2 linked regions of the Homo sapiens genome follow. The protein of the gene in region 1 purifies or fractionates together with the protein of each later gene. This does not show direct contact. Each region holds a gene or a part of one and is shown on either strand. Other genes may lie near its edges.

The links. The genes of interacting proteins can lie anywhere in the genome.
Region 2: the proteins of MYH3 (region 1) and ZNRF2 purify together in Homo sapiens (affinity purification with mass spectrometry; one large-scale study listed by BioGRID and IntAct). This does not show direct contact.

What each region holds. Positions count from the first base shown.
Region 1 is NC_000017.11:10,650,809-10,654,461, reverse strand, and holds part of MYH3 (myosin-3), read left to right. Parts: intron 1-1,898; coding exon 1,899-2,042; intron 2,043-2,793; coding exon 2,794-2,950; intron 2,951-3,653. UniProt on the Homo sapiens protein: Muscle contraction.
Region 2 is NC_000007.14:30,364,500-30,368,245, forward strand, and holds the end of ZNRF2 (E3 ubiquitin-protein ligase ZNRF2), read left to right. Parts: intron 1-1,440; exon of another isoform or gene 1,441-1,505; intron 1,506-1,535; 3' UTR 1,536-3,190; downstream 3,191-3,746. UniProt on the Homo sapiens protein: E3 ubiquitin-protein ligase that plays a role in the establishment and maintenance of neuronal transmission and plasticity. Ubiquitinates the Na(+)/K(+) ATPase alpha-1 subunit/ATP1A1 and thereby influences its endocytosis and/or degradation.

The DNA of each region.
Region 1 (3,653 bases):
AAGTAAGGAAAATGTGTTAGGGATCCTAGGGGACCACAAGCTCAGTGAAATAGCAGCCTCCTTGTATCATGAAGGGGATGAGCACTGCAGCCCATTACATTCTGGCCCAAGCCACTGTGGGGGTGCTGCGAGGAATTCTGGAGCTCACTAGTTTCTAAAATCCACATCAGGAGAATCTGGAAAAGTCCCAAGAAAAGTAAAAAGCAAAAAAAGGAAAAAAGAAAGAAAGAGTGAAAGAGAGATGGAGGGAAGGAAGGAAGGAAAGAAAGAAGGAAGAAAGAAAGCAAGGAAGGAAGGAAAGAAAGAAAGAGAAAGAAAGAAAGAAAATAAAAGAGACAAGTAAAGGAAATACTATCATTGGGTTGGGCATGAAGGAAAAAAGGCATTAAAAACCGCCCTGCACGTGAACCCGGGAGGTGGAGCTTGCAGTGAGCCTAGATCACGCCACTGCACTCCAGCCTGGGAGACAGAGCAAGACTCGGTCCCCCCAAAAAATAAGAACCGCCCTGCAGTGCTACCAAGCATTGGAGCTCCGAAAAGGTGGCTCTCTGTGTATTTCCAATAAGGAGCTAAGAATGGGCTGCTAACACGTCAGGGAAGGAGGAAGCTAGATACAGTGAATGATAATCTAAGATGAACCTAAGAGACCATCATAGACAGCCAGGGCCCATTGGCCGGGATGGTTTGAATGAATCCCTGCTTGAAGGCAGGGAAAAGGCAGGTTTCCCATCCACACTGCCCAGAGACAGAACCAGGAAAACTGACCATTTCAGAGGAGGTCACAGAGAAAAAGGAGGTGAGGACAGGGCAGGGAAGAGGAAGACAAGTTCCCCACCCCCTGTGCCTGAGGTCCTCCAGCTTCCCGAGGGTGTGGGGGTTTGTCCTGCTGAGAGAAGTGCAGGTGCTCAGAACCACTGCTCTGCCTCATGGTGCCGTTTGCCTGGCTTATAACACTCTGACCCCAGAAAGGGCAGGAAAGGGGTGGGGAGGGCAACTGAGGGGCCCTTTCCTGAGCATGCTGGGGCTGGGTGGTGAAGGGGGAAGAGGTGGGCCGGGGGCTGGACAGCTGCTTTCAGAGAGCTCAGAATGTTGGCAATCCATGGGCACCAGCCTGGCAATCCAATGCCCCTTCCTCATTCTCTTCGGTCCCTGCCTCACGACTGCAGGGGACATATGCGTCATTTTCTCTCAGTAGACAGGAAAGAGCCAGCTGCTGGAGCTGGATTTTGGTCCAGGCAGTGTTACTGACTGAGCTGAAAGGTTCCTGCTGGCCCCGTTCCCAGCCACCATCACCCATATCCACCCACACAGATCCTCTTTTCTCATTTCCGACATCCGTCTCTCACCTCAGGCCCAATGGGGAGGAAGAAGACACCCTGAATAACAGAAACAAACCCCATTTCATCAGCACCACCACAAGCCGCCCCATAGCCTTTCCTCCTCTCGCTGTGAGCTGGGCTTGTTCTAGGGTTTGGCCCTTCCATCTCGGCTCAAGAGTCTCTTGGTCTTTTGGTGGGGGCAGCAGACAAGACGTGCAGACAGGCCAGGCACGGTGCCTCACACCTGTAATCCCAGCACTTTGGGAGGCTGAGGCGGGTGGATCACGAGGTCAGGAGATCGAGACCATCCTGGCTAACACGGTGAAACCCCGTCTCTACTAAAAATAAAAAAAATTAGCCGGGTGTGGTGGCGGGCGCCTGTAATCCCAGCTACTTGGGAGGCTGAGGCAGAAGAATGGTGTGAACCCGGGAGGTGGAGCTTGCAGTGAGCCGAGATCGCATCACTGCACTCCAGCCTGGGCGACAAAGCAAGACTCCGTCTCAAAAAAAAAAAAAAAAAAAAAAAAAAAAAAGACGTGCAGACCATCTTAGTGAAGCACTGTGCCTCTTCCTTTTTAGACCCTGGTGGTCAAACCAGAGGATGTGTACGCCATGAACCCCCCCAAGTTCGACAGGATCGAAGACATGGCCATGCTGACGCACCTGAATGAGCCAGCCGTGCTGTACAACCTGAAGGACCGTTACACATCTTGGATGATCTATGTCAGCGAGGGCTTTCGACGTGGTTTCCCTGGGGCATTAGATATGCGGGCAGGGGAGGGAGGCAGAGGTATGTGTGTGGGCCGTGGGATTCTGGAAGATGAGTGCTTGCCTAGCTGATGAACAAAACACAAAGACGGAGGAGAAAGAAGGCAAGAAAGCAAGAGGTGGATGGGGCAGGAAGAAGGAAGGTGGGAAGGAGGACCAGGAGCCGGAGAGCGGGGAAGCTGGGGCCAGGCTTGGTCACGGGGTGCTGTGACTTACCAACTGTGGGAGGGTCGCCACTCCCCTTTTTGAGTCTCAGTGCCTCACTATAAATAGGAATGGTAGCCTCCCCCCTTTATAAGTTTATCCCAAAGAAACATGAGATAATAATAAAGGCAGCTGGGTGTGGTGGCTCACGCCCGTAATCCCAGCACTTTGGGAGGGTAAGGCGGGTGGATCATGAGGTCAAGAGATCGAGACCATTCTGGCCAACATGGTGAAGCCCCATCTCTACTAAAATACAAAAATTAGCCGGGCGTGATGGCATGTACCTGTAGTCCCAGCTACTCGGGAGGCTGAGGCAGGAGAATTGCTTGAACCCGGGAGGTGGAGGTTGCAGTGAGCCAAGATCGTGCCACTGCACTCCAGCCTGGTGACAGAGTGAGACTCCGTCTCAAAAAAAAAAAAAAACAATAATAATAATAAAGGCAAGGGGTTTTCCATATGCACATACATACATATACGCACGTATATGTTTTTCCTCCCACAGACCTACTCAGGCCTCTTCTGTGTCACTGTCAACCCCTACAAGTGGCTGCCGGTGTACAACCCCGAGGTGGTGGAAGGCTACCGAGGCAAAAAGCGCCAGGAGGCCCCACCCCACATCTTCTCCATCTCTGACAACGCCTATCAGTTCATGCTGACTGGTGAGTTTCCCAGGAGGAAGCATGGGATGCTGGAGCAGGCACTGCATGAGGCGAGCGGCAGTTGCCCCTTACTCCCAGGCTGGACCCCATCTGGTGTTTAGCACAGGGAAAGGAGGAAGAAGGAGCCAAAAGAGGCAGAAAGGGGCTGCATCATGTAGGGCCCCGCATGCCAAGGTGACGAGTTTTGGATTTAATGCAAGTTAGAATATGCAAAACGGATATGGATGTTTTCATGGATCAAAACCAAAAACTGATCATTTTATATAGTTCAGCCTAATACAGCAAGAACGATGAGAAGCCACTGGCTGGTTTTTTTTTTTTTTTTTTGAGATGGAGTCTTGCTATGTTGCCCAGGCTGGAGTGCAGTGGTGTGATCTCGGCTCACCACAACCTCTGCCTCCCGGGTTCAAGCGATTCTCCTGCCTCAGCCTCCCGAGTAGCTGCGACTACAGGTATGCACCACCATGTCCGGCTATTTTTATATTTTTAATAGAGACAGGGGTCACTTTGTTGGCCAGGCTGGTCTCAAACTCCTGACCTCGTGATCTGCCTGCCACAGCCTCCCAAAGTGCTGGGATTACAGGCATGAGCCACTGCACCCGGCTGCCACTGGCTGATTCTGAGTGGAGACTTGCCCTCTCTGAGTCTCAGTCTCAAGAAGGAGGCTTTCGATATTGACCAAAGGATACAGCTGGAAAGGAGA
Region 2 (3,746 bases), on another chromosome or scaffold:
AATGTGAATGGAAGTAAGAATGCTAGGTAAGAGAAGTATAGTGGTGGAGTGGTATTTTGAATATATGTGCACATATGTTTTTATTTCACCATAGAAAAGGTTTGGAATGCCTTCATTGTCACCTTATGTTTGAGACAAAACGAAACTGTGGCTAAAATTATAGAAGCATTTTAAGGGAAGTACTGAAACTGATGCTAACAAAATGAAATTTTTGTCTTAGTATTTTACATGCCAAAGTAATACATCTAAATCCTTCATCTATAGATAAAATTTGTCTTTTTAGTCTTTCTTAGTGCATTTTGGGCTGCTATAACAAAATACCTTAGATGAGTAATTTATACATGACAGAAATTTAGTGCTCACAGTTCTGGAAGCTGGGAAGTCTAAGATCAAGGTTCCAGCCAGTAGATCTGGTGTCTGATGAGGGCTCATTGCTCATTTATGGCACCTTCTGTGTGTCCTCACGTGGTGGGATAACAGACTCCCTCAAGCTTCTATAAGGATACTAACTGCATTCATGTGGTCAGAGCCCTCATCACCTAATCATGTCCCAAAGGCCCCACCTCTTAATACTATAGCACTGCAGATTAGGTTTTAACATAGCAATTTTGGGAGTACACAAACATTTAGACCATAGAGCTGATAAGCTTTTTTTTTTTTTTTTTTTTTTTTTGGTGAGGTGGAATTATATTGTATAAATTTTTTTTCTTTCATCAGCTAAATTTTTCCTTTAGTGTCACAGTGAGCTTATGGGATATGTGGAGCATACATCTCATCTCATAGCTGAAATGCATATGTCTGTTGGTCTTCAACAACATTTCCATTTTCTTATGTTACATATGAGTGTTATATTTGCTTATTTGTTTGTTTTCGAATATAGAACCTGAATTTGAAACTAGCCTACTACATGGGCAGGGTGAACTCTGTTAATCAGGTGTCTACAGAAATCTGAACCAATGGAGTCTGCTTCTGTGGGTCTTGAAGAGTCATTTTTAAGAGTTTATAGACATGGAATATCTTGACTTGTACATTTTTGCTTCTGTCCTGACTGTTCTTATTTATCAAGTGATAAATTCTTGTATACCTTTTAATAGTCCTAGATTAAAGGTATATGGGTTTGAGGAGGATTCAGTGTTGTTAAAACATTTTGTAAGGCACTGTGTAGCCATAAAGCTCAACGTTTCTGATATCCTTCAGCATAAGAATTTAATAATCAACCCAAAATAGAGAGACATGAATATTTGTGGTCTTGATTAGTTAGAAAATTGCTGTACTTATTTTGGGGTTTTTAGTTATTTGGGAGAAATATTTTAAATCTCCGTGTGTGTGCATTCTTTACTTGCGTGTAGTCCTTATTGTGAAAGGGGGATGACTTTGTTATGTATTTTTTGTGACTAAACTTTAATTGATCCTTCTGTTTCTTAATCTGTTCTTCTCCAGATCACTGATTTTATGAGTTTTCAGAATAGTAAGTAAGGGTATGAAGACTTACAGTAACTAAAGCAATGTTCATGGGGAAATCTATTTTTACACAGGTTTTCTTGTCTTGACAAGATGCTTGAAAAACCAAGAGGATATGAAAATCTGTCTCTGGAGAAACAAAGACGCAGGCATACTCAGCCAGAAATCTGAGTTTTGTGAGACTTGGTAATACAGAGATGGACAATCGTACTGGGGTAAAAAAACCCTGCTGAAGAGAGGACAGTGACCACAGAACTCAGTGTACCAAACATGCATACAAAGGACACACAGGGATTTTGAAAATGCTGCACATCCCTTAATAGTCATCTACATAGGTAATACTGATAAACATTTTGTATTCAGACGCCAAAGTTAACTGATTTAAAAGTTGATTTACTTTTTATTAAGTTCTCCAGAGCTGCACAACTAGTTATGTTTTGATTTGTTTTGTTTTTTAATTTGGGGTCTCTTTGTTTTCCCCAACATAATGTTCATAATGTTTCTGCATTCATCTGTTCTTAAATTGAAAAACATATAATTTACTTCTTATAAATTGAAGTCTTAAATGTGAAACCAAGAAATGTAATCAAGCAGTAAAAACATCTGAATGTAGACCATGATCTCAAGTTCTTCCATTTTCTCCCCCACGAGTGGAAAATAGACTTCTACATAGGAAAGCTAAAATATGTTAATATTTTTAAATTAAAGGTTTAATATCAGAATGCAGTCCAAAGAGCAAATCATATTACATAATTACATTTTAATTAAATATAGAATATTCTACTGAATTGCAATTTATTAAATATTCTTATCCTCTTAAATAAAACTGCTCAACAGTTAATCAGCAGTGAATCATCTTGCAGCTATGCAATTTAAAAAAAATACAGATTACCAATTTCAAGTGCTGCCAGCTAAAATAACTGTTTTAACGGGTATCTTTTGTTTGTTCTTTTCACTTAATTATTTTATTGTGCTTTGCATCTCCAGGCAGTTCTCTCACATTTGGGTAAAATGTTTAGCAGGCTGTAAACTTAAGAAAAGGGTAAAATAAAATTTTCTGGAGAGGAACTTGGAATTTGAGGGAGATTTTATATACCTTTAAAAACTGTAATTTAATTGGGATGCCAGGTTTATAGCAATTTGCAACTTTAATTTTCCAGATAATCTGGAGGTTAGCATTTGATAAATGATTTTTTAAAGTAGATATGAAGATTTTGTTAATTTATAATTTATTCATGTGTTATTACTGTAATTGAAAATGTTATAGACACTTTTAAATTCAGTTTGTGTAGAAAGAAATGTGTTAAACAAAATTATGTTAATAAATATTCCCACATAATACATCTGAATGGTTAAAAATACTGGAAGAGTTGTCAGGGCTACAATAGTGAATGTCCTTTTTTTTAATATCAAAAATATCGATAAGTAGGTTTTGTGTTTTCAACGTAGGGAAAATGTTATCAGTGAATAGGTGGTGTACTTTACTTGGTATAATTTAAAGTTGCACAGTAAGTACTGTTTCCTTATTTTAATCTTTCTTTACTCATAATGTATTTAAGAATTTGCTGTTTTATTTAACGCTGCTACTCTTAATCTTCTCTAAATTTTTCCCCCTACTTTCTTGCTTCTGTTTCACATTTTTTAAAAGGGCAAGTACAGGAGCAACTGCTGCTACCCAGAAAAATGTGTGTATTATAAATAATTAAAGAGTTTTTAATTGCTTTCTGTATGATTCCAGCTCAGATAACATTTTCCCTGAAGTTATGCTGTGAAATGCCTTTTGTTATGCTGCAATTGCTAAAGGAATCCAAAACCTCCATTGTGACAGCTGAAGGCACAGTTTAATAGGTGCTTTTTTACTAGTTATGAAAAATATTCGTCCCTTAAGGAAACGATTCTTTTTCTGTTTTTTTCTGTTACCATGAAGTCTTAATTTGATTTCATTTTATTTCACATTTTTGATTTTGTAAGCTTTCATACCCTCCTGCTCAACCCCCTCAAGTAAAACCTCTTAGAATGTGAATAATTGGTTCATTTTCTATTGCTGGTATACTCTTGTGATGAGAATTATTTTGTTGTCTTCCATTCTTAAAGGAAGAGATTTATTACAGCTGTGGGGATTAACTGTATTCTCCTGGAAGTTGATTTTCTGATAGGTTAATGCAAAAGTCATTGCAAAAACTGCTATTACTTTTGCGCCAATTTAATAGTTCACTTGTTTACTTTTTAACCTATATTGGCTTAAATTCACTTTTTAGCCCCTCTTTGTCATAAGGTTCTGTGCT